Homo sapiens: one gene and its partners. The protein of the gene in region 4 interacts with the protein of the main gene of each other region in a pairwise test. Each region holds a gene or a part of one and is shown on either strand. Other genes may lie near its edges. The genes, in order: FUNDC2, HSFX1, HSFX2 and SDR16C5.

What was found.
Region 1: the proteins of SDR16C5 (region 4) and FUNDC2 interact in binary tests that used the Homo sapiens proteins (3 or more experiments, as listed by UniProt).
Region 2: the proteins of SDR16C5 (region 4) and HSFX1 interact in binary tests that used the Homo sapiens proteins (3 or more experiments, as listed by UniProt).
Region 3: the proteins of SDR16C5 (region 4) and HSFX2 interact in binary tests that used the Homo sapiens proteins (3 or more experiments, as listed by UniProt).

The regions. Positions count from the first base shown.
Region 1 is NC_000023.11:155,057,844-155,062,587, forward strand, and holds the end of FUNDC2 (FUN14 domain-containing protein 2), read left to right. Parts: 3' UTR 1-2,461; downstream 2,462-4,744. Other genes in the region: CMC4 (cx9C motif-containing protein 4), read right to left, coding at 4,000-4,148. UniProt on the Homo sapiens protein: Binds directly and specifically 1,2-Diacyl-sn-glycero-3-phospho-(1'-myo-inositol-3',4',5'-bisphosphate) (PIP3) leading to the recruitment of PIP3 to mitochondria and may play a role in the regulation of the platelet activation via AKT/GSK3B/cGMP signaling pathways.
Region 2 is NC_000023.11:149,769,574-149,778,199, forward strand, and holds HSFX1 (heat shock transcription factor, X-linked), read left to right. Parts: upstream 1-4,494; 5' UTR 4,495-5,108; coding exon 5,109-5,672; intron 5,673-6,509; coding exon 6,510-7,217; 3' UTR 7,218-7,294; downstream 7,295-8,626.
Region 3 is NC_000023.11:149,590,603-149,599,334, reverse strand, and holds HSFX2 (heat shock transcription factor, X-linked), read left to right. Parts: upstream 1-4,020; 5' UTR 4,021-4,634; coding exon 4,635-5,198; intron 5,199-6,035; coding exon 6,036-6,743; 3' UTR 6,744-6,823; downstream 6,824-8,732. Other genes in the region: TMEM185A (transmembrane protein 185A), read left to right, coding at 1,080-1,324.
Region 4 is NC_000008.11:56,316,494-56,325,301, reverse strand, and holds the start of SDR16C5 (epidermal retinol dehydrogenase 2), read left to right. Parts: upstream 1-5,126; 5' UTR 5,127-5,243; intron 5,244-8,808. UniProt on the Homo sapiens protein: Oxidoreductase with strong preference for NAD. Active in both the oxidative and reductive directions. Oxidizes all-trans-retinol in all-trans-retinaldehyde.

The DNA of each region.
Region 1 (4,744 bases), on a different chromosome or scaffold from region 4:
CAGAGACGGATCCAGGGGCACTTTCTGGCCGCTGCCTGCTCGGGCTCAACAGATGGAGTCCAATGTTTCAGTCTCCCCCAAGAATGTGTATCCTCATTGCTGACACGGGAGCTGGGTGCGGGGAGAGATGTGGTGGTGGGGACCCTTGCCTGAGCAGCCCATTGTCATGAGTGTTATTGCCATTGTGATAATATGTTAGCATGACTCTCCTCCCAAATGGCCGCTTGTTTGTTGCAATCTCCCGCCACTCAGCCTCCAGACATTCATTAACAGGACAGTGGGGTTCTTGACTCCCCTACCACTGGGGTGACAGTCCTTGCTACTGGATCTGGGCAGTTACTGTCTCATGGATGCTGGCAGAAGACGATTCAAGTTGGCGGACTAGATTCTACAAGGAATGATCTCTTGCATAATTCTAGCCAACATGCTCTTGGGGTGGGTGCTTCTGGTTTTGGAAAGCAAAGTTACTGTGTAGTTAACAACTATTGTGGTAAGAATAGTCTCTCCATCATTCTTTTGTTTCACGGTTGTCAGAAAGATGGGCATAACTAATGGTTGGGCTCTTATTTGGAACCTCTACTTTTGTACAGTTTGGGAATCTCTGCTTGAAAAGATGGTATACTGATGGATTTGAAATTTCTGAGTATCATCAATGTTTCATGATGATCTCAATTTCTTCTCAGAGGGAAGCTCACAGCCAGTTTTGGACCCCAGAGAAAAATGTGGCTGCTGCCCTCTACTCCCTCTACCAAATTATCAGCTTCATTTCTTTGTCATGAAATCTAGTATGATTTCTCAGAAATCAGGCCCAGAACTAAAATACATTTTCTGCCCAATTTTCTAAGAGGTCACACTAACATCTGAGTAATTGGGCAGAAAACCTATTTTAGTTCTGAGCCTGATTTTTCTAGAAGTCATATGGTATAGCTTATATTTCCGATGCTTGCATTCTTTTTAAGGGGTCATGAATCTTAATACTTTTTTTTTTAAAAGAAAAGTGTCGCACTTTTTCACATTTTTATAAAGCTTTAAAGTCAGTTTACTGACTTTTCAAAAGTGTCTACCTTTTTAAATTTTAAAATGGTAAGAAATGACATTCCTGAGAGCAGTGGCTTTCATCCTTGCTTGCACTTGGGAATCACCTGTGAAATTTTAAAAACTACTAATGCCTGGCTCTCATCCTAGAGATTCTGATTTCACTGGTCTGGAGTGCTGTTCAGGCATCCTGAGGTTTTAAAGTGTCTTAGCTTTTTCTAATGAGCAGCAGAGACTGAGAACCACTGAAGTACACAGTTGGAAGCTGGTGCTGAAAAAATTAAGAGTTTTGCTGTTAACTCCTTAAGAGGGCTTTAAAGCCTTTTATATTAAGTGCCATACAACTTCAGATGCCTTCTGAATACTGAACACAAGTGTAATATTATAGTTCATTAAATGTCTTAGGAATCGTGTGGAGTGAATGCAAGGAAAGGAGTGACAAGATATCACCCCACAAATGACTTACCCATTACGAAGGGAAAACTACCTTTCTAGCTAAAAGGTCTGTCAGTCACTAACCAAGTGATTAAACTTAGCATCACTAATAGCCAACTTAACAAAGTTTTTTTTTTTTTTTGGTTTCTAAAATGGGAGATCATAGTTTTCACCTTCCTAGAGTTCTTTGCTTAAGACTGAGATTCAGTGTTACTCTTGGTCCCTAACAATAAGAAGCACTCAGTAAATGTTAAGCCTTCTATGATGGCTATTTTATTTTTTTGTATGTCATAATAATACCTAAGAATAAGAAGAGTTAAATTAATGTCTTCAAATGGATTTGTTGACTTAAACTGACACAATCCTTTAAAAGAAGGAACTGATTTGAACCTTTCAAAACTGAAAGAAAGTCGTATACTGATACAGTTTGGAGCCACCGAATGTCATGTTGAACCGTATTCCCTAATGGAGGTGGATCCTGGTGAGAGGTGATTGGATCGTGGGGGCCATCCCCTCTTGGTACTTCACTCATGATAGTGAGTTCTCATGAGATCTGGCACTTCACCCCTCACTCTCTCTTGCTCCTGCTTTGGCCATGTGGAGTGCTCACTCCCCTTTTGCTTTCTGCCATGGCTGTAAGTTTCCTGAGGCGTCCCCAGAAGCCCATCAGATACCAGTGCCATGCTTCCTGTACAGCCCATGGAACTGTGAGCCAACTAAACCTCTTTTATTTATAAATTACCGAGTCTCAGGCACTTTTTATAGCAATGCAACAATGGACTAATACATATACTTTAGCATAAAAACATTTAAAAGAGTCTGAAACTGGAGTAGTTAACTCAGTAAAAATAACTTGGCAATAAAACACAGAAAAACAATCTATTTGATCATGTAGTGATTCCTAATGTAAATCCTAGTACAACTGTCAACTGATAATTTTAAATGTAATTTAGATTTGTAGATGGTGTAACATTAAAGTTGTATGATGTTTTATTGTGTTATTATTAACACAAGACGTCATTTAAATTTCATGGGGATTTAGCTCTGTCACTCTGGTTTGTGGACCAAACGTCTCTAAGGCAGCATTTCTTTAAGTCGCTCTGGAGAGCATTCACACACAGAGATGCTGTCTGCAAAACAGGTTCACTTAGGTTTTTTGAAAGCTCTGAAGTCTGACAGGAAATTAACCTGTGTACTTGTATGCAACCTAGCATTCCCCAAACTTACCTGACCAGAGAAGCCTTTTTTTTTTCTTCCGGTTACAGCAATTCCTAGAAACACTTTGAGTAATGCTGCTTTAAAGAAAACAGTTGGTCTCAAATAATCATGGTATTTTAACATCAGGGACCTAGCAGAAATTGTTCCTGCTTTTAGTCATCTTTTTCTTTTTTAGAGGACAGCCTTTGGTGGTTCAAGCATCCATTTGAGGAAAGCAAATGGCCTGTTGCATGCTGCCTCCTCCTACTTCATAAAGTGACTGACAGCTGTCAACAGGCTTCATTCAGCAGCTTTGTATTAATGTTGTCTGGATCCTCTGTAACAGGTTTTTATTATCAGGATATAAAGAATAGATAAACCAACTAAGTTTGAATTATCTTGCTGCCTACCTGACTTCCAATGAAAATTTTTTCTTCAGTTCCTTCATGATAAATTAAGGATCATTAAGCATTACAAGAATCATTTCTATGCCTTTCCTACCTGGTTAGTCGCTGCAGTGGGGATGCAAAAGCAGAAAGAAATGCTCTTACTGGCATCTGGAAAGACACTTTTTGCTCTGCATTTTTGGAAGTACAAAAGGTAATGAGTTAGTTTAAAGGAAACTTTGAATTAGTTTAGCATGTAATCTATAAAAGGTATCAAAATTGGCTCACGCCTGTAATCCCAGCACTTTGGGAGGCCGAGGCGGGCAGATCACGAGGTCAGGAGTTCAAGACCAGCCTGACCAACATGGTGAAACCCCGTCTACTAAGAACACAAAAATTAGCCAGGCGTGGTGGTGCATGCCTATAATCCCAGCTACTTGGGAGGCTGAGGCAGAATTGCTTGAACCCGGCAGGCAGAGGTTGCGGTGGGCCGAGATCGCACCATTGCACTGTAGCCTGGATGACAGAGTGAGACTCCATCTCAAAAAAAAAAAAAAAAAAAAAAAAAAGGGCGTCAAAATTGTGATGCTGGAAGTGAGTCCTTTCACCTAACATACCTCATATGACTTAAATTTGATGAATGGCACTAGTGGCTTGAACTTCAAGAGAATTCATTAATACCCTATATCTAATAGTCTTAAAATACATTTAGTACAAAACCCAAATTTTTCTCTTAAACAGGTTTATTTTAGCAGCTCAGTATATTACATTCTACATATTTGTCTTTTAATGTGTTTATATTTCTGCCTGTTCTGCATAGATGGCATATTCATTAACTTTTGTAGCTGACTTTTTCATTTGCTATTTGCTGCTACCTGGCCTGAAGAGTCAGGAGGATAAAAAAAATTCATTTGGTGGAAACATGGAGCAGCACTTCAGAAGAACTTTACTTTGATGCAGACTTCCGTGTTAGGTTTTCTTCCTCTTCTTTTTCAAATCCTGAACAGACGACAGATCTTCCCTTGGGATACTGAGCACAACACTTACGCAGTTCTTGGATGACAGCCTGACACTTTGATTCCATGTAGCTGTTGGCTGAAAAACATACAGGCAGACTCTAGTCATGATCTCATAGGACTAAGGTACAGGGAGGTTTAGATCAGTGCTTCCCACCCCTTTTCACTTTCAGTACCTATGGAACTGGAAGAAAGAAGATATACCAAAGTCCACTGAATTCTTTCTAATTTAGAGACCTGTCGACAGGTTCGTTAGGGAAAGTATGATTTACAAAGTGGTTGAAAGCTATTTTAATATATAATTTCCTTTAAGGTTAATAGCATGTATGCACCTTTTTCTAGGACATTGGTTTTTAACATCATTTTTATTACTGGTCACTAATTTGATGAATTAGGAAAATGCACATACACCACACATTATTTTGCATACAGTTTAAGCTGATTGTTGGACCTCCCCTACTAAGGCTGTGCATCAGGAATTGGCAAACTGCAGCCTTAGGGTCAAATTCAGCCGGTTTTTACAGCTGGGAGCTAAAAATGGATTTTAATTTTTAAAGGGTTGTAAACACACAACACATACACAATATATACAACAAAGGCCTTTGGCCTCCAAAGCCTAAAATATTACTTGTTTGGCCTTTTTCATAAAACATTTGCAGATCCCTACTATACATA
Region 2 (8,626 bases), on a different chromosome or scaffold from region 4:
TGTTCCCTCTTGTGGGAGCTCACGCGGGGGTGGGGTGGTGGGGAGGAACTGCCTAATGAAGTCTGGCTTCCGCCTCTGCCCATTTTCGGTGCTGGCATCAACCGGGACTATGTCTCTTTCTTTAGATTCTGCTGGTTCACAAACTGGATGGCCACAACGCCTTCTCCAGCATCCCGATCTTTGTCCCCCTTTGGCTCTCGTTGATCACGCTGATGGCAACCACATTTGGACAGAAGGGAGGAAACCACTGTATGTACTCAGCATTTCAGAAGTCCTTGGTGTGTGTCTGGGGGGGGACCAGGGAGTGGGGGGGGGGCGGATAGAAGTCTAGGAAGGGATGAGTCCCCGAGGGCCCCAATTTAGAAGCTTGTGTGGGAAAGTGAGGGCTGAGGAAATTCTGGGACCTTCTAAGGGAAGGGCATGCCGTAACTCTGGTGTTCTGCTGGCCTGCACCGGGACTTTTCTCGCAGTGCACGCTGCCATTTGAGGTAGAACCAGACACGGCAGGCAACCTCTCAGAGATCCCGTTCCCTCCTCTGCAAAATGGGGATCAAGACAGATTCTTCCCAGGCCCGGGAGGGTTTGATGGAAAATCCACATCTCCCACCCAAACCTGGGATTCATCCTAGGTCCCTGTTGGCCTCTCTGCCTCCCCCATATCCTTGCTGCCATCACCCGAGTCTTGCCTGTCTTGCCTTGCTAACACTCTATTCCCCTCCACCTGCTTGCTGAGGCAGACACTTCCAAAACGATCTCTGCAGAGGGTGCCTTCCTGGCAAGGCTGTGGGCTCCATGGCACGGAAGCCCAGAGCATTGCCCTTCGGAAAGCCAGTGGGTTTGGGGGCAGGGCCTCACTGCAGCCCAGCAGCCCGGGCTGTGCTTGCTGTTTGTGCCTCTGCCCCCTACCCCGCACCCGGGAGCAGGGAGGGCTTGCACCGAGCTGACACTCCAGTAGCCTACAGAGAGGAGTAGTGGGACTGGGAAAGTGGCTTTAAGGTGGCTCCATGAGTTCAGGCCCCCTCCTGGCCAGGACCCGTGCATGACTACCGCCCTCACGGATTCCAGAGGGTGACAGAAATCTTGTTCTTGGGTGGCACTGTCATCCATGAGTTTATCCTGGCTGGAGAAGATTAGCGGAAGACACCGTAGTCTGCGCACCACAGATATTTTGAGACTCACTGGAGCAGTAGTTCTCAAACTTGGGCATCCAGCAGAATCCCAAAAGGGCCAGGAAAAGGGGACCGCTGGAGCCCACCCTAGCCCGACTCAGTTTCTGGAGGTCTGGGCTGGGGCCCGAGAATGGCATCCCTAACTAGGCCCCGTGGACGCTGTCCCTGCCGGTCCGGGAACCCCACTCCAAGCACCACAGAGCTAGCATTTGCACTTCTTCCCCATTTTGGGTACTCAAGCCCTGTTCAGGCTTTGTGACTCAGGAGTCTGGATAAAGTATGTTATGACATTGTAGGAGTGAAACTTCTTGTTACGGAAAGAAAGTTAACAGGAAGGTCAGTTGAGCCTCGTGTGTGAAATAAAAAATTCTTATTTTTCAGGGTGGTTTGGTATCCGCAAAGATTTCTGTCAGTTTCTGCTTGAAATCTTCCCATTTCTACGAGAATATGGAAACATTTCCTATGATCTCCATCACGAAGATAATGAAGAAACCGAAGAGACCCCAGTTCCGGAGCCCCCTAAAATCGCACCCATGTTTCGAAAGAAGGCCAGGGTGGTCATTGCCCAGAGCCCTGGGAAGTATGTGCTCCCACCTCCCAAATTAAATATCGAAATGCCAGATTAGATGCCACTTCCGGGGACAGAGCTTAAGTGGACTGGGACGCACTCTCTCCGCCTTCCTCTGCCCCCTCGTTCACCCCGCAGACCAGAACCAGTACTGGAGCTGGGTCTCCAGGTACGTCCATCTCATGCCTTGTTTGCATCCAGCGCCTATCAGCCACTCACCACGACGGGACGCGGAAGTGGCAGGTGACGGGGGTGTGTGCCAGCAGATGCGGATGCCAGGAAGAGTGTGAGAACAGGGGTGGGATTACCGTCTGTCTGGGAGGGGCTCCAGGTACCCCTCTTCCCCGTCAGACCCACTGGGAGATGGCTGCTTGCCAGGCCCCCAGAAGGAACATCTGTCTATACGGTGCTGAAATCCCAATCAAAAGTATTGTTTAGAAATGTATTTCTCCACAGGGCTGACCTCCTGCAGCTCGCTGAGCACTCCCAGGTCCTCAGCACTCCCAGGTCGTGGCTGGGGCAGTCAGTAGGAACTGTAACTATGTCTCTGATGCACCACGTGTTTAGACACAGCACAGTCCTTTTTTCTGTTCCTACTGTGGAAGTAGTTTCTCTTTGGGCATGCTGACAGCAGTTTTTCATAGCCTCACGGATGAGCCCTTTCTACGGGAGTGACTCCATGCTTGTATACAGAGTATTTATACAAATGTTTTAGCATCTTCATATGCGGTGTTAACCCCTAGTTCTGTACAGCATATTCTGTTCAAGTATTTTTTTACAAGCTTGTGCTGTAGGCACATGCCTTCTGCTGCAGAAGTGGACGCCCGTGGCACACTCCCCCCCCCCCCCCCGTGGGGTGCCACGCCTTCATGGGACATTGCCACTTCTGCCCTGGAACTCGTGCAGGTACGTAGTAGCTGCTACTGCCAGAACGGCAACACCAAGCAAGAGATGGTCCATGCTTTTCTGACGTTCTCAGAATAGTGGCTAGCTTCAAACCTGACAAGCGCTGCTTGAAGCCGGAACACTAGAGAATGTTGCTGAGAGCAGAAACGGCCACGCGGGTCACGACTATGCGTGGGAAAGTCTCAAGCTTCCCTCCTGCCAGCAACAAGAAGGCTTTGGAGTAGGCATGATGTTTTCACGTGTGCGTGCCGTTTCTCCAAGCACTGCAGGTTCCACCGTGTGTCAGAGGCTGCAAGTTTAACATCCTCCTGCCTGAAAACAAATAGGTCCTTTGCTGAAAAGAGGGTAAAAAAAGAGCTTTGATCGTCTCAGCCAGGAGAAGAGGGTGGTGTTTTCACGCGGGCAACTGCTCGCCGGCCTACATGGGGTTAATTCAAGTCTGCTGCGAGCACGACTCCGCCCTTGGCACTGGCCTCCAGCAAGCCCTGTTCTCTTTGGGGTACAGGGGAACGGGATGGTTTAGACTTTCCTGCTCAGTGTGTAAAAAATGTAGCTAAAGCCACTATTTTTGCTCTCCTTAAGCTGTTCAATAAACCGGTTCCTCATTTTACACGTGCATGATGTGTATCTTCTTTGCTGGATGGGCCAGGAAACTGGAGTGGTCCTCTCAGCCAGCCTCAGAGGAAAGAAATCTCTAGCTGGCACAGGCAGCCAGTGAGTGAGGCTGGCGGCTGCAGGGGCACAGCCTTTAGAATGAGTCCTTCAGTGCACAGGTCCCAGGGTATACGGGGTAGTGGGAGGAAGGAGGGGACGCCTCGCAGATGCCACTGTTGGCTGGGCTACACCTTGCCACACTTGTTACTGCTTAGGAGGCTTTCTGGAGTGTTCCTTGGGTGCTACGACAATCTGCAGCAGACACTGTCCTTTCACCGCTCCTGGTCCTCGTTTGCTCCCCAGTGATGTCAACAGCTGAGGACTGCTCACGCTGCAACAAAAGGCTCTGCAGTCGCTGTCTAGCTTGCCCTAGTCGTCTCTAGAGTTCTGCCTGAACTGAAACTCAAGTGGGGTTCAGCTCATGACTTGTGGCAATTGACCAGGAAATTCACCAGTTGCTGTGGCTGGAAGGATTTTCAGTCCTGTGGGTTGTAACCAGAGGCCACAGGTGGATTCTGCCTTAGGCTCATGAGATTTCCGACTTGCTGTTGAAGAAAATGCCTTGTGAAGTGACAACAGTAGCTCTGACCCAACTGCCGGTGCCTCGCTAGTTCCTATACGTCCCACTGGATCCTCACAGCCCCGGGAAGCAGGTGCTACTACTCTTATCCCCGGGAGGAGACAGAGGCCGAGAGAGGTTAAGTGACGTGCCCAAGTCACACAGCTCGGCAGCGGCCGGGTTGAGCATCAGCAGTCTGTTTGCAGACCCCTCACTGTCACCCCCTGAGCCAGTGCGCCTTGGGCCCTGCGGTCAGGATGTCTCAAGCGTGGAGGCATCACCGGTTCGTGGCAGTCTCTGGAAGGTCACTGAGCTCTGTGCCCAGAATCGAGTCGGGGGAGTCTGTGCAGAGGTGGCCCTGTGTGTGGGGACAGTGTGTGACACAGACACTGCTTTGGATGGACACCTCTCCCGTGACCTCCTAGCATCCAATCCCAAAGGAACAACTGTTGCAGAGATGGACCGCTGGACACAAACCCACGTGCGTTTCTCTGGAGACACTGGCCAAGGAAAACAAAACATGCTCGAAGGCCAACAGCTGCATGCCCCACCGCGATGTGACCGCAGACACCCGGGGTGTAGAAGGGTCTCTGCCTGGTGGGGGGACACGTGCAGGCCGAGGAGAGGCAGGAAGGAGGCTGCCTCCGACTCCCCACTGGACTGCATGGCGACGGCGTGTGGTGGGGCAGTCAGCTAAGCCATTTGCCTAAGGGGCTGTCGGGCATCTGCGTGCTGGGGACCGACAGTGTGGGTGTGTTAGGAGGATCTGTATGGAGCACATTGCTGCCTCTGGCTAGGACAGGGTGGAAAGGGTGGCGTGGCTACAGCCTGACCCATGGGCACCGTCCTACCCTTTGTTCTGTGCTTCCGAGTGTCAGTCATGTGCTGGGGTCTGTGGGCCCATGACTCAGACGGTGAGCTCTGACCTTCCTGAGCCAGGGCTTTGCTGTAGTTGTGCCTGGCTCAGGAGCTCTAGGACAAGGGGACCGCTCCAGGTCTGCATCTACGGTGTGGCAGGGCCCCTCGGCACTCTTGTGCACTAGTGTCATCTTTCCCATTGAAATGACTGTGAGGACCAGAATGTGCACATGCAGATGGGCAGCTACTTGTCTGCCTTGGCCCTTTATTACACAACTTGCTGGGGGTGGAGATGCCACCCCCCGGCAGTCAGAGCCCCTTTATGATGTCATGGGGCTGGTTACATGACTGCCAAGGGGTGCTGCTGGCCACACTGCACTAGCAAGTTTGCCAGATGGAGGACAAGCGATCATTGAGTATGGCTCGCTGTGAAGAAAGAAATTCGAGAGGACAGGATCATGGCTTGGAAAGGGTGCCTTTCCCTCCCCAGTTGCAGTCAGAGACCTACCTTCACCCAGCAGATCCTTCCCCTGCCTGGGACGACCCGGGGTCCACTGGGAGCCCTAACTTGAGGCTGCTGACAGAAGAAATCGCTTTCCAACCTCTGGCCGAGGAAGCTTCGTTCAGAAGGCCGCACCCTGACGGTGACGTCCCGCCCCAGGGAGAAGATAATCTCCTCTCCCTCCCCTTTCCACAGAAACTGTGGAGACTGGTCAGCAGCAACCAGTTTTCGTCCATCTGGTGGGATGACAGTGGGGCTTGTAGAGTGATCAATCAAAAACTCTTTGAAAAGGAGATTCTCAAAAGGGACGTCGCACACAAAGTGTTTGCCACAACTTCGATAAAGAGCTTCTTCCGCCAGCTAAACTTGTATGGCTTCCGAAAACGGCGTCAATGCACTTTCAGGACCTTCACCCGCATTTTCTCCGCAAAAAGGCTGGTCTCCATCTTGAATAAGGTAATGAACGACAAGCCTCTGGAGGGGTTAAGTCGGTGGGCTCTGGGGCCTGGTCGGGTGGAAGTCCCAGGACTGCCTCCTGGGAAGTGGGCGACCTCAGGCAGGGTGTGGGGCCATCGCTGTGGGCCTGTGTCCCCCTCTGGGTGGAGGTGACATGAACTAAGAGTGAATGTGGGGAGAGGGCTGAGGATGGTGCGGGCCCCTCTCGAGTGTGTAAAATATCACAGGTGCCAAGTAGCCGTATCTGCGTGTCGTCCTCCCCGGGGCCAGCCATGTCATCTGGCGGTTGCTGTGTCCCCCTGACTCCACAGCACATTACCCTGTGAGGTGAGCAGGCCAGGGGAGTCTGGTATTTGTACCACTGTCACCCTAGCTGGTGTCTGGAGAGGTGCTCAAGTGGAAGCACTGAAGGGCGCCTGGCGCAGGAGGTGCAGATGCTCCTGCTGCCCTTGGTAGGTGGGCCCCTGGTGTGGAAGAGCCAGTACCCAGGGCCTCCAACCCAGCCGGGGTGCATTCTGTTGCCAGCTGACACTGCATGGGGGAGGCCCAGAATCTTCTTCCCTCCTGGTCTGCAACTTCAAAGACCCTTTCCGCCGGCCATGGACACCCTAATCTGCCATTTTGAGGCTTTTTCCAAGACGGAAAGGCCCGCCACAACTTGGTAAACCTTGACGATGTGAACGCGAGTCCCCAGCTTCCTTTGGGGACTGGGACCTTTTCCAGAAAGGCCTCCTGGGCCAGTAGAGTTCTCTTGCACAGGGGCGTAGATGGTTGGTAGTTGTAGTCCATCCTTGTGACTTGCAGTTTCCTTTTGTTTATTTAAACTTTGACTTATAGTTAGAGTTCTACTGCCATCCTTACTTTCAAAGAGACTCCCCTCACCTCCTCGTGAGGATGAAGAGAAGAGTGGGTGTCAAGTCTGCACCAAGACATCAGGAGGAGGACAAGCCAGAAGCTGCTGGATCCTGTCTGGCACCAGCAGACACTGAGCAACAAGATCACACGTCTCCGAATGAGAATGACCAGGTCACACCGCAACACCGGGAACCGGCCGGTCCCAACACCCAAATCAGGAGTGGCTCTGCTCCACCAGCAACTCCTGTGATGGTGCCTGATTCCGCCGTGGCGAGTGACAACAGTCCAGTGACCCAGCCGGCCGGCGAGTGGTCAGAGGGCAGCCAGGCTCACGTCACTCCGGTGGCCGCTGTCCCTGGGCCTGCAGCGCTGCCCTTCCTCTATGTCCCTGGATCTCCCACTCAGATGAATTCTTACGGGCCTGTGGTGGCCCTTCCCACAGCGTCCCGTAGTACCCTTGCCATGGACACCACAGGACTTCCTGCACCTGGCATGCTGCCCTTTTGCCATCTCTGGGTACCGGTGACCCTAGTGGCTGCTGGGGCTGCACAGCCTGCTGCCTCCATGGTCATGTTCCCCCATCTCCCAGCTCTGCACCACCATTGCCCCCACAGCCACCGCACGTCACAGTACATGCCAGCTAGCGATGGGCCCCAGGCGTACCCAGACTACGCAGACCAGAGCACATAGAGGGCAGCATTTGGGCAGAATATGTGCTGGTCAATAAATGTGTCAGAAAATGAGTAATTTTCTGACTGCACAAAAAAGTCTTCATGGTCTCCATCCTTTTTCTTTCTTTGCAGTCCAGTACCCCCCTCCGACATCTTTGGCTTGCATGATAGAGACTTCAGCCTAACACGCCTCCCTGGAAAAGTGCCCAGGAGATACTCGAGCAGGTGCTGGGTTTTAGGAAGCCCCTCAGACATCCCGCCTCTACTCATTAAAAATTACCTGGAGCTGGCCGGGCGCAGTGGCTCATGCCTGTAATCCCAGCACTTTGGGAGGCCGAGGCGGGTGGATCACGAGCTCGGGAGATCGAGACTGTCCTGACTAACACGGTGAAACCCCGTCTGTACTAAAAATACAAAAAATTAGCCGGGCGTGGCGGCGGGCACCTGTAGTCCCAGCTACTCGGGAGGCTGAGGCAGGAGAATGGCATGAACCCGGGAGGCGGAGCGTGCAGCAAGCCGAGATCGCGCCACTGCACTCCAGCCTGGGCGACAGAGCAGGACTCCGTCTAAAAAAAAAAAAAAAAAAAAATTACCTGGAGTTGCTCGCTGAGTGCTAATTGTGCTGCTAGCATTGCCGGCCTAGGGTTCACAATGACTCTGTGTTACTGGCCATTCCTTGTCATGGCGGTGCCTTTATATAACAGGATCTTCACTTTACATACAGATGAGATCACGTCTGGCTTTGTCATTGGGTTAAAAAGTGCCCTTGATAGTTGTGGAGGTGACACATACTACCAAGGAGTCCTACGGGTTTGCAGTTTAGAGGGTGCTCATTAGTGTCTGGTGGACAGGATTTATGTTTGGCTTTTATGTCTGTACTGGATCTGGTGGGGTTTTTTACTTCCTTCCTTGATTCCCCCACTATGCCCCCACTTTTTCTTTCTTGTTTCCCTTCCTTCCTACTTTCCTTTCCTCTCCTTTTTTCTCTCTCTCTCTCTTTGCTTCCTTCTTTCCTTCCTTCCTTCCATCTCTCTCTCTCTCTGTGCTTGCTTGCTTCCTTCCTTCCTTCCTTCCTTCCTTCCTTCCTTCCTTCCTTCCTTCCTTCCGTGTCTCTCTCTCTCTCTCTTTCCCTCCCTTCCTTCCTTCTCCTTTCTTTTGGAGTCAAAAATTAATTTAAAAGATGTCATGTCATGTTTTAACTTAGGAAGCAGCCTTTTCTGCTCACTTGGGGTGTTCATCTTAGAACACATGCTATCATCGACGAACTTCTTTGACTGATCAGAGGAAATAGATTCAAGTTCTTACCGTAGACACAACTGGGCACAGACATCAAAAGAGCTCTGAAATCAGGGCGTGCAGAGAGCCCCAACACCCACACACCAGAACCCAGAGGTATCCCTGCCTGTGATTTTTAATTTGACAGTAGGT
Region 3 (8,732 bases), on a different chromosome or scaffold from region 4:
GTGCACGCTGCCATTTGAGGTAGAACCAGACACGGCAGGCAACCTCTCAGAGATCCCGTTCCCTCCTCTGCAAAATGGGGATCAAGACAGATTCTTCCCAGGCCCGGGAGGGTTTGATGGAAAATCCACATCTCCCACCCAAACCTGGGATTCATCCTAGGTCCCTGTTGGCCGCTCTGCCTCCCCCATATCCTTGCTGCCATCACCCGAGTCTTGCCTGTCTTGCCTTGCTAACACTCTATTCCCCTCCACCTGCTTGCTGAGGCAGACACTTCCAAAACGATCTCTGCAGAGGGTGCCTTCCTGGCAAGGCTGTGGGCTCCATGGCACGGAAGCCCAGAGCATTGCCCTTCGGAAAGCCAGTGGGTTTGGGGGCAGGGCCTCACTGCAGCCCAGCAGCCCGGGCTGTGCTTGCTGTTTGTGCCTCTGCCCCCTACCCCGCACCCGGGAGCAGGGAGGGCTTGCACCGAGCTGACACTCCAGTAGCCTACAGAGAGGAGTAGTGGGACTGGGAAAGTGGCTTTAAGGTGGCTCCATGAGTTCAGGCCCCCTCCTGGCCAACCCGTGCATGACTACCGCCCTCACGGATTCCAGAGGGTGACAGAAATCTTGTTCTTGGGTGGCACTGTCATCCATGAGTTTATCCTGGCTGGAGAAGATTAGCGGAAGACACCGTAGTCTGCGCACCACAGATATTTTGAGACTCACTGGAGCAGTAGTTCTCAAACTTGGGCATCCAGCAGAATCCCAAAAGGGCCAGGAAAAGGGGACCGCTGGAGCCCACCCTAGCCCGACTCAGTTTCTGGAGGTCTGGGCTGGGGCCCGAGAATGGCATCCCTAACTAGGCCCCGTGGACGCTGTCCCTGCCGGTCCGGGAACCCCACTCCAAGCACCACAGAGCTAGCATTTGCACTTCTTCCCCATTTTGGGTACTCAAGCCCTGTTCAGGCTTTGTGACTCAGGAGTCTGGATAAAGTATGTTATGACATTGTAGGAGTGAAACTTCTTGTTACGGAAAGAAAGTTAACAGGAAGGTCAGTTGAGCCTCGTGTGTGAAATAAAAAATTCTTATTTTTCAGGGTGGTTTGGTATCCGCAAAGATTTCTGTCAGTTTCTGCTTGAAATCTTCCCATTTCTACGAGAATATGGAAACATTTCCTATGATCTCCATCACGAAGATAATGAAGAAACCGAAGAGACCCCAGTTCCGGAGCCCCCTAAAATCGCACCCATGTTTCGAAAGAAGGCCAGGGTGGTCATTACCCAGAGCCCTGGGAAGTATGTGCTCCCACCTCCCAAATTAAATATCGAAATGCCAGATTAGATGCCACTTCCGGGGACAGAGCTTAAGTGGACTGGGACGCACTCTCTCCGCCTTCCTCTGCCCCCTCGTTCACCCCGCAGACCAGAACCAGTACTGGAGCTGGGTCTCCAGGTACGTCCATCTCATGCCTTGTTTGCATCCAGCGCCTATCAGCCACTCACCACGACGGGACGCGGAAGTGGCAGGTGACGGGGGTGTGTGCCAGCAGATGCGGATGCCAGGAAGAGTGTGAGAACAGGGGTGGGATTACCGTCTGTCTGGGAGGGGCTCCAGGTACCCCTCTTCCCCGTCAGACCCACTGGGAGATGGCTGCTTGCCAGGCCCCCAGAAGGAACATCTGTCTATACGGTGCTGAAATCCCAATCAAAAGTATTGTTTAGAAATGTATTTCTCCACAGGGCTGACCTCCTGCAGCTCGCTGAGCACTCCCAGGTCCTCAGCACTCCCAGGTCGTGGCTGGGGCAGTCAGTAGGAACTGTAACTATGTCTCTGATGCACCACGTGTTTAGACACAGCACAGTCCTTTTTTCTGTTCCTACTGTGGAAGTAGTTTCTCTTTGGGCATGCTGACAGCAGTTTTTCATAGCCTCACGGATGAGCCCTTTCTACGGGAGTGACTCCATGCTTGTATACAGAGTATTTATACAAATGTTTTAGCATCTTCATATGCGGTGTTAACCCCTAGTTCTGTACAGCATATTCTGTTCAAGTATTTTTTTACAAGCTTGTGCTGTAGGCACATGCCTTCTGCTGCAGAAGTGGACGCCCGTGGCACACTCCCCCCCCCCCCGTGGGGTGCCACGCCTTCATGGGACATTGCCACTTCTGCCCTGGAACTCGTGCAGGTACGTAGTAGCTGCTACTGCCACAACGGCAACACCAAGCAAGAGATGGTCCATGCTTTTCTGACGTTCTCAGAATAGTGGCTAGCTTCAAACCTGACAAGCGCTGCTTGAAGCCGGAACACTAGAGAATGTTGCTGAGAGCAGAAACGGCCACGCGGGTCACGACTATGCGTGGGAAAGTCTCAAGCTTCCCTCCTGCCAGCAACAAGAAGGCTTTGGAGTAGGCATGATGTTTTCACGTGTGCGTGCCGTTTCTCCAAGCACTGCAGGTTCCACCGTGTGTCAGAGGCTGCAAGTTTAACATCCTCCTGCCTGAAAACAAATAGGTCCTTTGCTGAAAAGAGGGTAAAAAAAGAGCTTTGATCTTCTCAGCCAGGAGAAGAGGGTGGTGTTTTCACGCGGGCAACTGCTCGCCGGCCTACATGGGGTTAATTCAAGTCTGCTGCGAGCACGACTCCGCCCTTGGCACTGGCCTCCAGCAAGCCCTGTTCTCTTTGGGGTACAGGGGAACGGGATGGTTTAGACTTTCCTGCTCAGTGTGTAAAAAATGTAGCTAAAGCCACTATTTTTGCTCTCCTTAAGCTGTTCAATAAACCGGTTCCTCATTTTACACGTGCATGATGTGTATCTTCTTTGCTGGATGGGCCAGGAAACTGGAGTGGTCCTCTCAGCCAGCCTCAGAGGAAAGAAATCTCTAGCTGGCACAGGCAGCCAGTGAGTGAGGCTGGCGGCTGCAGGGGCACAGCCTTTAGAATGAGTCCTTCAGTGCACAGGTCCCAGGGTATACGGGGTAGTGGGAGGAAGGAGGGGACGCCTCGCAGATGCCACTGTTGGCTGGGCTACACCTTGCCACACTTGTTACTGCTTAGGAGGCTTTCTGGAGTGTTCCTTGGGTGCTACGACAATCTGCAGCAGACACTGTCCTTTCACCGCTCCTGGTCCTCGTTTGCTCCCCAGTGATGTCAACAGCTGAGGACTGCTCACGCTGCAACAAAAGGCTCTGCAGTCGCTGTCTAGCTTGCCCTAGTCGTCTCTAGAGTTCTGCCTGAACTGAAACTCAAGTGGGGTTCAGCTCATGACTTGTGGCAATTGACCAGGAAATTCACCAGTTGCTGTGGCTGGAAGGATTTTCAGTCCTGTGGGTTGTAACCAGAGGCCACAGGTGGATTCTGCCTTAGGCTCATGAGATTTCCGACTTGCTGTTGAAGAAAATGCCTTGTGAAGTGACAACAGTAGCTCTGACCCAACTGCCGGTGCCTCGCTAGTTCCTATACGTCCCACTGGATCCTCACAGCCCCGGGAAGCAGGTGCTACTACTCTTATCCCCGGGAGGAGACAGAGGCCGAGAGAGGTTAAGTGACGTGCCCAAGTCACACAGCTCGGCAGCGGCCGGGTTGAGCATCAGCAGTCTGTTTGCAGACCCCTCACTGTCACCCCCTGAGCCAGTGCGCCTTGGGCCCTGCGGTCAGGATGTCTCAAGCGTGGAGGCATCACCGGTTCGTGGCAGTCTCTGGAAGGTCACTGAGCTCTGTGCCCAGAATCGAGTCGGGGGAGTCTGTGCAGAGGTGGCCCTGTGTGTGGGGACAGTGTGTGACACAGACACTGCTTTGGATGGACACCTCTCCCGTGACCTCCTAGCATCCAATCCCAAAGGAACAACTGTTGCAGAGATGGACCGCTGGACACAAACCCACGTGCGTTTCTCTGGAGACACTGGCCAAGGAAAACAAAACATGCTCGAAGGCCAACAGCTGCATGCCCCACCGCGATGTGACCGCAGACACCCGGGGTGTAGAAGGGTCTCTGCCTGGTGGGGGGACACGTGCAGGCCGAGGAGAGGCAGGAAGGAGGCTGCCTCCGACTCCCCACTGGACTGCATGGCGACGGCGTGTGGTGGGGCAGTCAGCTAAGCCATTTGCCTAAGGGGCTGTCGGGCATCTGCGTGCTGGGGACCGACAGTGTGGGTGTGTTAGGAGGATCTGTATGGAGCACATTGCTGCCTCTGGCTAGGACAGGGTGGAAAGGGTGGCGTGGCTACAGCCTGACCCATGGGCACCGTCCTACCCTTTGTTCTGTGCTTCCGAGTGTCAGTCATGTGCTGGGGTCTGTGGGCCCATGACTCAGACGGTGAGCTCTGACCTTCCTGAGCCAGGGCTTTGCTGTAGTTGTGCCTGGCTCAGGAGCTCTAGGACAAGGGGACCGCTCCAGGTCTGCATCTACGGTGTGGCAGGGCCCCTCGGCACTCTTGTGCACTAGTGTCATCTTTCCCATTGAAATGACTGTGAGGACCAGAATGTGCACATGCAGATGGGCAGCTACTTGTCTGCCTTGGCCCTTTATTACACAACTTGCTGGGGGTGGAGATGCCACCCCCCGGCAGTCAGAGCCCCTTTATGATGTCATGGGGCTGGTTACATGACTGCCAAGGGGTGCTGCTGGCCACACTGCACTAGCAAGTTTGCCAGATGGAGGACAAGCGATCATTGAGTATGGCTCGCTGTGAAGAAAGAAATTCGAGGGGACAGGATCATGGCTTGGAAAGGGTGCCTTTCCCTCCCCAGTTGCAGTCAGAGACCTACCTTCACCCAGCAGATCCTTCCCCTGCCTGGGACGACCCGGGGTCCACTGGGAGCCCTAACTTGAGGCTGCTGACAGAAGAAATCGCTTTCCAACCTCTGGCCGAGGAAGCTTCGTTCAGAAGGCCGCACCCTGACGGTGACGTCCCGCCCCAGGGAGAAGATAATCTCCTCTCCCTCCCCTTTCCACAGAAACTGTGGAGACTGGTCAGCAGCAACCAGTTTTCGTCCATCTGGTGGGATGACAGTGGGGCTTGTAGAGTGATCAATCAAAAACTCTTTGAAAAGGAGATTCTCAAAAGGGACGTCGCACACAAAGTGTTTGCCACAACTTCGATAAAGAGCTTCTTCCGCCAGCTAAACTTGTATGGCTTCCGAAAACGGCGTCAATGCACTTTCAGGACCTTCACCCGCATTTTCTCCGCAAAAAGGCTGGTCTCCATCTTGAATAAGGTAATGAACGACAAGCCTCTGGAGGGGTTAAGTCGGTGGGCTCTGGGGCCTGGTCGGGTGGAAGTCCCAGGACTGCCTCCTGGGAAGTGGGCGACCTCAGGCAGGGTGTGGGGCCATCGCTGTGGGCCTGTGTCCCCCTCTGGGTGGAGGTGACATGAACTAAGAGTGAATGTGGGGAGAGGGCTGAGGATGGTGCGGGCCCCTCTCGAGTGTGTAAAATATCACAGGTGCCAAGTAGCCGTATCTGCGTGTCGTCCTCCCCGGGGCCAGCCATGTCATCTGGCGGTTGCTGTGTCCCCCTGACTCCACAGCACATTACCCTGTGAGGTGAGCAGGCCAGGGGAGTCTGGTATTTGTACCACTGTCACCCTAGCTGGTGTCTGGAGAGGTGCTCAAGTGGAAGCACTGAAGGGCGCCTGGCGCAGGAGGTGCAGATGCTCCTGCTGCCCTTGGTAGGTGGGCCCCTGGTGTGGAAGAGCCAGTACCCAGGGCCTCCAACCCAGCCGGGGTGCATTCTGTTGCCAGCTGACACTGCATGGGGGAGGCCCAGAATCTTCTTCCCTCCTGGTCTGCAACTTCAAAGACCCTTTCCGCCGGCCATGGACACCCTAATCTGCCATTTTGAGGCTTTTTCCAAGACGGAAAGGCCCGCCACAACTTGGTAAACCTTGACGATGTGAACGCGAGTCCCCAGCTTCCTTTGGGGACTGGGACCTTTTCCAGAAAGGCCTCCTGGGCCAGTAGAGTTCTCTTGCACAGGGGCGTAGATGGTTGGTAGTTGTAGTCCATCCTTGTGACTTGCAGTTTCCTTTTGTTTATTTAAACTTTGACTTATAGTTAGAGTTCTACTGCCATCCTTACTTTCAAAGAGACTCCCCTCACCTCCTCGTGAGGATGAAGAGAAGAGTGGGTGTCAAGTCTGCACCAAGACATCAGGAGGAGGACAAGCCAGAAGCTGCTGGATCCTGTCTGGCACCAGCAGACACTGAGCAACAAGATCACACGTCTCCGAATGAGAATGACCAGGTCACACCGCAACACCGGGAACCGGCCGGTCCCAACACCCAAATCAGGAGTGGCTCTGCTCCACCAGCAACTCCTGTGATGGTGCCTGATTCCGCCGTGGCGAGTGACAACAGTCCAGTGACCCAGCCGGCCGGCGAGTGGTCAGAGGGCAGCCAGGCTCACGTCACTCCGGTGGCCGCTGTCCCTGGGCCTGCAGCGCTGCCCTTCCTCTATGTCCCTGGATCTCCCACTCAGATGAATTCTTACGGGCCTGTGGTGGCCCTTCCCACAGCGTCCCGTAGTACCCTTGCCATGGACACCACAGGACTTCCTGCACCTGGCATGCTGCCCTTTTGCCATCTCTGGGTACCGGTGACCCTAGTGGCTGCTGGGGCTGCACAGCCTGCTGCCTCCATGGTCATGTTCCCCCATCTCCCAGCTCTGCACCACCATTGCCCCCACAGCCACCGCACGTCACAGTACATGCCAGCTAGCGATGGGCCCCAGGCGTACCCAGACTACGCAGACCAGAGCACATAGAGGGCAGCATTTGGGCAGAATATGTGCTGGTCAATAAATGTGTCAGAAAATGAGTAATTTTCTGACTGCACAAAAAAGTCTTCATGGTCTCCATCCTTTTTCTTTCTTTGCAGTCCAGTACCCCCCTCCGACATCTTTGGCTTGCATGATAGAGACTTCAGCCTAACACGCCTCCCTGGAAAAGTGCCCAGGAGATACTCGAGCAGGTGCTGGGTTTTAGGAAGCCCCTCAGACATCCCGCCTCTACTCATTAAAAATTACCTGGAGCTGGCCGGGCGCAGTGGCTCATGCCTGTAATCCCAGCACTTTGGGAGGCCGAGGCGGGTGGATCACGAGCTCGGGAGATCGAGACTGTCCTGACTAACACGGTGAAACCCCGTCTGTACTAAAAATACAAAAAATTAGCCGGGCGTGGCGGCGGGCACCTGTAGTCCCAGCTACTCGGGAGGCTGAGGCAGGAGAATGGCATGAACCCGGGAGGCGGAGCGTGCAGCAAGCCGAGATCGCGCCACTGCACTCCAGCCTGGGCGACAGAGCAGGACTCCGTCTAAAAAAAAAAAAAAAAAAAAAAAAATTACCTGGAGTTGCTCGCTGAGTGCTAATTGTGCTGCTAGCATTGCCGGCCTAGGGTTCACAATGACTCTGTGTTACTGGCCATTCCTTGTCATGGCGGTGCCTTTATATAACAGGATCTTCACTTTACATACAGATGAGATCACGTCTGGCTTTGTCATTGGGTTAAAAAGTGCCCTTGATAGTTGTGGAGGTGACACATACTACCAAGGAGTCCTACGGGTTTGCAGTTTAGAGGGTGCTCATTAGTGTCTGGTGGACAGGATTTATGTTTGGCTTTTATGTCTGTACTGGATCTGGTGGGGTTTTTTACTTCCTTCCTTGATTCCCCCACTATGCCCCCACTTTTTCTTTCTTGTTTCCCTTCCTTCCTACTTTCCTTTCCTCTCCTTTTTTCTCTCTCTCTCTCTTTGCTTCCTTCTTTCCTTCCTTCCTTCCATCTCTCTCTCTCTCTGTGCTTGCTTGCTTCCTTCCTTCCTTCCTTCCTTCCTTCCTTCCTTCCTTCCGTGTCTCTCTCTCTCTCTCTTTCCCTCCCTTCCTTCCTTCTCCTTTCTTTTGGAGTCAAAAATTAATTTAAAAGATGTCATGTCATGTTTTAACTTAGGAAGCAGCCTTTTCTGCTCACTTGGGGTGTTCATCTTAGAACACATGCTATCATCGACGAACTTCTTTGACTGATCAGAGGAAATAGATTCAAGTTCTTACCGTAGACACAACTGGGCACAGACATCAAAAGAGCTCTGAAATCAGGGCGTGCAGAGAGCCCCAACACCCACACACCAGAACCCAGAGGTATCCCTGCCTGTGATTTTTAATTTGACAGTAGGTGGCAGAGTCCTGGGAGACGTGGGAAGAGGCCATAAGAGAATGCAGACATGGGAATGGATTAATCCAGAGTCCAGCCATGGTCTGCAGGTGGATCTCCCTGTCTCGGCCTGCTCACTTACAAATGGGTGCTCATTTACAAATCGGTGTGAATCACATTTCATCATTTGTGAGCTCCTTAGTTTCCAAGAAGTACAGTTTTCTCATGTGTTTCTTGGACTTTATGCATATGCCTCCAGAGTTTGAATCATGCAAAGATGCTGCCACTTAAAAACCTCTTTCCTACAAACTTACACCCCTCCGATCGTGGTTTTCCTGTGAATCTCAGCTGGGCACGATGGCTGACGCCTGTCATCCCAGCACTTTGGGAGACTGAGGCAGGTGGATCACGAGGTCAGGAGTTCAAGACCAGCCTGGCCAAGATGGTGAAATCCTGTCTCTACTAAAAATACAAAAAATAGCCGGGCACGTTGGCAGGCACCTGTAATCCCAGCTACTTGGGAGGCTGAGGCAGGAGAATCGCTTGAACTCAGGGGGCAGAGGTTGCAGTGAGTCGAGATCACGCCACTGCACTCCAGGCTGGGAGACAGA
Region 4 (8,808 bases):
GATGAGAAAAGCAGAATGAAAATGAAAATAGGAGAAAATGTATCTGGGCCCATAAGTCTCTGGCTGTAAGTAACCTTGGCACAACAAGCCAGGTCAAATCTACATAAATGAGCGGTAGCTCATTCTATGATTATTCAGGGGAAAAAAAATTTGTTAGAGGTGATAATGACCATGGGATAAATAGAAGAGCTAGAACAAACATAAAACAACACATCCTTTTGTCTTTTCGGCAAGAGATGAAATGAGGAGTGTCGGGCTTCATGCCCAGTTTTTCTGAAAAATGTAGTAAACAGGGAAATCCAGTCATGTGCCCAGTCCTATCACTGTCTTCCTTGAGTCTTGGCTTTCTGAAACTTTTGCATTTCTTTGGTATATAGTTACTTTCCCCAACAAAGTGACAGGGCACGTGTCCCCTTTCTCCTTCAACTCTTGGATTTATTATCAGTATGTATTATTCATCCTACTCTTTCACATGTTCGTTTACTACTTCTGTTCCAGCCTAACACTGCTCTCTTCCTGTCATTGAACAAATAAGTCTACCTTTACACTAATCATGTACTTCTCTGAGGATTTCACAATCTCCTTCTGCCAAATAATGCATTTTGGTTAAACATATATATTTGTGAAAGTATCATCTGCTGACTGTACTTACTCTACTGTTTTACCAAGTAATCCCCAAAGACAACATGTTCTTTAAACGAGTCTTTTAAAAGTAGGCATTTTTTTCATCTTTTTCTGTTTTTAATATAACAAAATATTGCACGCCATTTATAAAAAGTCAAACAATACAGAAATATATATCATAATGGAGGCGACTCTCCTTGCCCCTTACTCAATTCTGTGCCCCTCCCGAGGTAACTACTGCCAACGGTTTGGTGTGTAGCCTTCCAGATCCATTCTTCTGTGCATTTCCATCTGTTTTACACACATGTGAACACACATGTGCATGCACAATGCACAGTAATCATCAATTTAATTTCAGTGGAATAATTCTGTACTTTTTTTTCACTGACCACAGCCTGGAGATTTCTCCCTGCCACTAAATATATTTCTAACTTCATCCTTTTTTTCAGCTTCAGAGAATTCTATTACATGACTATATCGTGATTAATGGAATAGCTGTGCATTCAAGTAGCTTCTCATTTTTTACTATCACAATCTTCAATAAACATGGGTCAATTTTTTTTTTTTTTTTTTTTTTTGAGACAGAGTCTCACTCTGTCACCCAGGCTGGAGTGCGTGATCTCGGCTCAATGCAACCTCTGCCTACCAGGTTCAAGCGATTCTCCTGCCTCAGCCTCTTGAGTAGCTGAGACTACAGGTGCGTGCCACCACACCCAGCTAATTTTTTGTATTTTTAGTAGAGATGGAGTTTCACCATGTTAGCCAGGATGGTCTCGATCTCCTGACCTCATTATCCACCCACTTCGGCCTCCCAGAGTGCTGGAAGTGTCAATATTCTTATGTGATAGATTCCTAAATGTGAAATAGCAGTCAAAAGTTATGATAGCTACTGCCCAATTACTGTCCATAAAAGACTCAAAGACAAATATCCCCACATTGTTTGAGAATGTCTGTGTTCCCACACCCTTGCCAATCCTGAATTCTTTTTTTTTTTCTTTTTTCCCAAGATGGAGTCTTGCTCTGTTACCCAGGCTAGAGTACAATGGCGCGATCTCTGCTCACTGCAACCTCCACCTCCCGGGTTCAAGCAATTCTCCCTGCCTCAGACTAGTGAGTAGCTGGGATTACAAGCGCCCACCACCACCCCTGGCTAATTTTGGTATTTTTTAGTAGAGACGGGTTTTCACCATGTTAGCCAGGCTGGTCTTGAACTCCTGACTTCAGGTGATCCACCTGCCTTGGCCTCCCAAAGTGTTGGGATTACAGGCATGAGCCACCATGCACAGCCCCAATCCTAAATTCTTATCTGACTTTTTAATATGTGGATATTAATGAATGAAAAAAAGGTTATTCCTTTTCCAATTTCCTTTTCCTGAATATGAGTGAAATTTCGCATCTTTTTAGGCATTTTCAGTAATTTATATTTATTTGCCTATAAATTTCTTTATCAATTTTTCCCACTGTCTTATTTCAATCAGTTTATAGAAATGCTATATATTATGACAAATTATCAATGGTCAACTCTTTATGCAAAACTATTTTCTCCTAGTCTGTTGTTTATCATCTTACTTTGCTTATGATATTTCCTTGCCTAGTCCCAAATTTCAAAACAATTTTTCAATATTGTATTTCAATACCTTCAGAGTGTTGTTTTTTATATTAACACTCTTATTCCATCTGAGTGTCCCGTGTCCTATTTACACTCTGCGTTTGTTTACTGAATTGTGGTTACTCAGGCTTTCTGTTGGGAAGAATGACTCATTTTTGCAGTACCTTCCGTGTGTCATAGCTTAAAGTATCTTTTGCTCTGGTTTCTGGAAATAGGATCCATCTGCTTAATGAAGTCAACCCTCACTGGTAGCTCCTTTCTTTTTTCTAGCACTAATGTGTTTATTTGCATTTTTATATTTTCTCTTTTATTTCAATGGAATTTTGGAAGAAAATAGGATATGAATGCGTATGCTCACTGTGCTATCTGGAATGGAAGCATCTGTGTATGTGTGGCCACAGAAACATTTTTATTATGAGATAAAGATATACACATAATGGAAAATTTGGAAAATACAAAAAGATACAAAGAAATAAATTCAACCAACATTCCACTACTATATTACAAAAAGTGTTAAGATGTTGATGAACTCTCTTCCAGTGTTTCTAATGCATGTACATAAAATTTTCATAGAAATTAGAATCATAGCAAATATATTTAGTCTTGTACTGTGTTTTTTAAACTCATATTCTGTGAAGTGTACTTCATACCCTTGAAAAACATGATTTTATAAAGATGGCTGTAGAGTACTCCATCGGCACATACTTCTTAGGAATTAAAGATCAATTTATTTTGATTAATATACTTGTTTCCTAAAAAGGTACTACTTCACATGATTCAGTGGAGTGGAAAGTCTCTTTCCCATCCCTGACTCTCAGTGACCCAGTTTCCCTTCCTGAAAGGCCACAGACAATACCTGGGTATTTGGTAAAGATAAAGGTGGAATTGGGTCAGAGGATATATCCCTTTCTAATTCCTGAAACATATTTGTTTTCCAGAAATGTATAATTTATACCCCCATATGAAGGCATTCTTTTAAAAAAAAAAAAAAACTTTCAATTTGTAAGGTAAGAAATGTTTTCATATGCATCTCTTTGGCCCTAAGATCAAAGAAATTGAGAATAAGATTAAACCACTTTTTCATGTTTATTAGCCCATGACACATGTTCTATCATAAACTGTCCATTCCTAGCCTTTGCCAAAAGAGACCCTTTAGAAATCCTTTCCCAGCTTTCAGGATTATGGTCAGTCCTCTGAGTTTCCCCCACATCAAGTCAAAGCAGGACCCTTTCCAACCAGCAGGGCCTCTGGCTTCTTTCACTGCGTCACCGGTGCATCCCCCACTACTCACTCTCATCTTTTGTACTGATGAGATTTCTAATAATGCTCCAAATTTCTTTCTTGAGGTCCACCCAGGGCTTCTGACCAGAAAGAAGAGTGACAGCCTAGGATTCTGCTCAGAGAAGCCATGAAGATAATAGGAGGCTGGTGTTTCCCAGTGTCCACTCATCTGAACTCTTGCAGGCAGGCTGCACCATCAAGGGCCCATTACCCGACGTCTCTCTGCCTCAGTCCACTCTCACTCCCAGGTGCTGCTCACCTCCACACCTTAGCCCATTCTGGAAGGCCCTTTGAGTCCAACTGCCTCTCCTCCTGCAGGCTGGTTGTGGACTCTGGAAGCACCTGGGGTGCATGTCTATCACCCGCACTGTTTATGAATGTGTCTCCCTTCTCCCTCAGAAGCCCTGCAACTCCCCAGAGCCCCACACAGCAGTGTCGCTGTGTGGTGACGGCTGACTTGAAACCAATGCACGCACATTTACCCACTCACCTTCCCACACGCCTCGCATAGCTTGCCACAGCTCGCTGCTGCTGCCTAAAGCACACAAGTAACCTCTTAAGTACTGAAAAGACAGTCGAGGGTTTCCCCTGCACCTACTTTTCCAAGCTTATACGACCTGCCTGTTTCTTCTGTCACCCAAATAAAGAACAAATGTGCAGTTCCTCTACTCCAGACCTGTCCCAGATATGGGCTGGCTAAGGCTGCTCTTCGACCCCTCACCACTTTTCCTGTCCTACTCAGCCCCGGGATAAATTTCAAACCCAATCTCATCATGACTCCCCTGTTTTTCTTTCAACATCCCATAATTTATTGTCATTTCTGCCCCTCATTGCCCCCAGAAAAGTTCACCCTCTATTATTAGCATCTCAGTGGTGTCTTGTGCTTATATTAACTCTTTTATTGATTTATTAATGAATGTTTTTCCTTTTTTTTTTTCTTGACAGATATATCATCGCTGTTATCTTCTGGATCGCTGTACACCCAGATGCTTAATATATCTTGATTGGGTCAGAGTGCCTGGTGACTCTTACGCTAGCCTCATTTCTCGGCTTCATCTTGTTAGAACAAATTTCCTCGCCCTCTTCTCCTAGGCCGCCTGCCAGCGCCGCACCCACTCCTGCCCCTGCCTGCACCCCACCCACTTCCCGGGGACTTCCGAGCCCACGCCCACATCCTTTACCTCCAAGGGGCAAGGAAGCTGTTGACTTAAGATCCCATGTGGAGCAGTCAGATGCTGCTGGAGAACTCCCCGCACTGCAGGCTCCAGACACACGACCTGGCCCCTCCCCCGTGGACGCCTATACTGCTCTGTTCTCTAATTCCAGGGTTCCCAACCTCGGGGTTGTGCCTTGCAAATACCTGGGAAACTTTTCTAGCTAATGCCTAGGCCCCTACCAACCCAGAAATTCCCATCTAATAATCTAGGGTACAGCCTAGGCATTGAAACGTTAAGCCTAAGAGAAATCCGGCGCACGCATCCAGTTTCCACCACCGAATTTCCAGCTTCTTAAATCTGCAGGTCCAGAAAAAGAAGATGGGAGTGCTGCCCACGTCGCGCACTGGGGCTACGGCCGGCCCCACCCCTGGCGCTGCCGCGGCAGTCCCGCCCTTGGACTTGGGCGGCGCCTGGATAAACACCTGAACCTGACTGAGCTCCGAGCCAGGGACTCGGGTGCCTGGGGCAGACGAGGCCGGCTTCTCCGCGGACAGCTAGGGAGAGTGTCCTGGGTAAGTTGCCGAGGTCGTCGGTCCTGGGTGCTGGCTCCCGGAGGAGGTCGCGCTGGCGGGGGTCGGGCGAGGCCGCCCTTTGGGCTGGTTTCACGCTGGGTCGCTCGCAAGGGGGCGCGGGTCGCCGAGCCGCGGCAGGACCCACCCGCGAGCTGGTGAGAAAGCAGCTGCACCGGGTAGCGCACGGCTGAGCGTCCCAGAAGCCCGGGCTCCCGTGGCTACGGCTAACGCAGACCCCTCGCCCCCGGGGGTGAGCTGCCAGCCTCCCTCCCCACCCGGAGCAGAGGGCAGGATGCCTCCCCGGACCCTCTTCTTCGGTCCGTTCTGCCCAGGTTCCCTGCTCTCTGCTGCTCAGTGCATCCACCTTCCGGGTGGATATCAACCCCCATATCACCCCTTTCAACCCAAGCTGTGATTGTCAGTCTGTCTGCCCTCCCGTTTCGTCCGGGTGCCCTCACCAGAGCCGACTTGCTGCCGCGCACTGGTATGGGAAGCCGAGGGCGCCTGTTTGGATTGGGTAGGCCGCGAGATAGGGACACCTAGAAGACTTCTGCCAGATTAAATTGTATACGCTCCGTAACATTCTAGGAAAGTCTTTGCAGTAAAATGGAACCGTACATTCACTCTTGTTTGTAAGTATACTATAACCATATTTAATTGATATAGCCAGGGATTATTAATTCATATGCTTAACAGGACCAGTGGAAGTTCTAGCCATTAATTATTTTGCTGTCATTCTGTGCCTGGCACTGTTCTAGAAAGGCCTCCATGTTTTATGGCTGTGCCACATTATTATGGGGATTGAGGAGCAGAGGGGGAGACATGTAAGCTGGCAGGTGTTGAAATCCAAACAGCTCCTCTTGCACCCCCTCCCCAACCCCTTGCACCCCGCAGAGGACTTTGTGCAGGGCAATGCCTTTTTTTTTTTTTTTTTCTAATTTGTTCGAAGGTTTCACACAAGCTAGTAGTGACCACATAATGCTCCTTAAAACTTTACCTATATAAACTGGTTTAATTCTCACAGCTCCTCTGTGTGGTAAGTATTCCTATGCACTATTAGAAACTCCCTTTTTAGAGGAGGAAACTGAGGCACAAGAGATTAAATCATTTCTACCAAAGTTGCAGGGAAAATCAGTGATATATCTGGAATTCCAACCCAAACTTTAATCTCTAGACCTCATTGCCTGTGTGGGTACCCAGCAGGCACCCTAAACTTCAACTGGGGAAGGGAGGTAACTCAGGCTGACAAGCTCTTAGAAATCTAGTAAGCATCTGCCAAGACAGGGTTAAAAGATGGACATATTTTAGGTCTTGCATCAAGCCAACATTGAGACAGTGGAACACTGAAATCTAGAATGTCCTGACATTAAGAGCGTTCATGTCACCCAGGTCAATGTTGAGACTTCTGGCCACTGCTGAGGTGCTGGAGCCCTGTGATGGGAGAAGTAGACCTCTGTCCCTCTATGTGAATTCACATAGTGATATAAAAGGGAATGTGGTGGTCTGACCAACTACTCCTGGTGTGGATTTTCCAAAGTTGGCGACGCCCAGGCTGCTGTCTGAGAAGGGCGCCTAGGGTTTCCCATTACTGTGTGCACAGTCTGACCCTCATCCTTGCAGATCCACAGGTACAGGCTCCATGTATTTGATATGAGAGTCCTCTTTCAGGACACCTTTTCAAGTTCTGCAGTGCCTGAGAGGCCTGATCAATCATTCAAAAGTTACTCTGTGAATGTAAATCAGAGCAAAGATCACAGAGAGTTTGAGGTCTATTTCATCAAAGCATGGATGAAAACGTTCTTCATTTGACCAGAGCATCCATGTTCCTTAGAGCAAACATTCTTATTCTCTGGACAGCCCTGGACACACAGGTCAAACCTGCCTTAAAACAAACTATTTTGTCCCTCTGCCAGGAAAGCTACTGCTCAATATCCCTACCTCCCACCATCATCATTTGGATATCCACTCAAAGGGTCACTTTCCAGCAGACATCTGTTGCTTCCTCTCCCAAGCCCAATCTGAATCAGCTCTCCGATCATCCTCTCCATAGCACACTGCACTTTTCTTTATAACACTATGGCTTATAACGATCTGTTTATTTGTTGAATACGTCTCTTCAACTAGATTACTTGGCTCACCTGCACAGAGATTATGAGAGGCTGCCCATCCCCTCAGCCCCAGTGCCCAGATAGAACCAGCACAGGGTGGATACTCAATAAACATAACACATGAACCAATCTGGCCCTCACCAGCTAACCAGCACAGGGACCCTGAACAAGTCACATACATCTTCTCTTCGATCCTCAGTCTCATCTGTACAATAAGCCAGGAACAACAGCCTGGGTTGCATCGACTCTCGACATTTCCTAAGGGTGTGACCACATACCAAGTCCTCCTGTAGATGAATCTATCCACCCTTACTCATTAACCGCAACTAGGCTGACTTCAGCCAAACTGTGAAGACCTGCTCTTTTTTCATTACTCCCCTCCTGTCTCCTCACACCTGTGCCTTTGTCTGAGCCTCTCAATTAAACACCCCATTCAGAGAAGGCTCCCACCCCCAGCACAGTATGCTGTCTGCTAAATATGTCTTCTGTTCCCATCCTGAAGGAAATAAGACCTTCCCTTCTTTCTCAGCTAGTGGTTAGTAAAGCACACCTTATATATTCATTCACACTAAAGTGTGAGTAACTGGTAGCAGGATGTAAGCACTAAGCTCTGTATGAGTTTGTCAAGGGGAGGCCTTTTATTCATTCAGCAGACCTAGTGGATGCCTTCTTGGTGGGCAGCACTATGAATCTGAGAAATGTGATAACATCTGTAAAGCACTGACTATAAGCCAGGCATTGTGGTCATACGTGGAACATTCTCATTTCATCTGCAAAAACACCCTATGCCACGGGACCAATATAGATGAAGAGACCAAGGCCCAGTGTAAGGCCAAGAGAACCCCCGCCATGGGGTTCACAGGTAGGCAGAGGCAGTGCAGGGCAGGAGTCCAGGTCTGCCTCGCCTGTGACCTTTAATCACACAGAGTGGTAAGTGATATAGAGCTGTTGGTGCGGGGACCTCAGAGCCTAGGGAAGGGCTATCTGGTGCTGATTGCAAATCTGTCGGAAAAGGTCTAGAACATCTGGTTACTTCCTGTCAAATGCTTTCTACAAATAGGACTTTACATTTTCCTCTCAAATCTCAGATTTTAAATAGTAATGCAAAATTAACGAGAATGCAAATGAGAAAGCACAAACATCAAAGGAGAGAAACATAAAGCCAGAGAGGTAGTAATGATGTTATAAACATTGTGATGTGGTCAAGACTTTGAACATAAAATCAGCCAACAGGATTCATTATTATTATGAAGAAAGGCTAACTATGAGCAATAATGAACTTATTCTTTTGTGTTAAATTTGGGTGTGGTGGTTACAGTTCCTGGTTAACAAACATTTCTGTTGTGTACTGCACATAGCAGGCATGCAAATAACATGCTGAGCCTGGGGCCAAGTAAGAAAGCCGAATAAGTATAGTCCCTGTGGCTTCCTCCTCCCACTTTCTGAATACAGAGTCT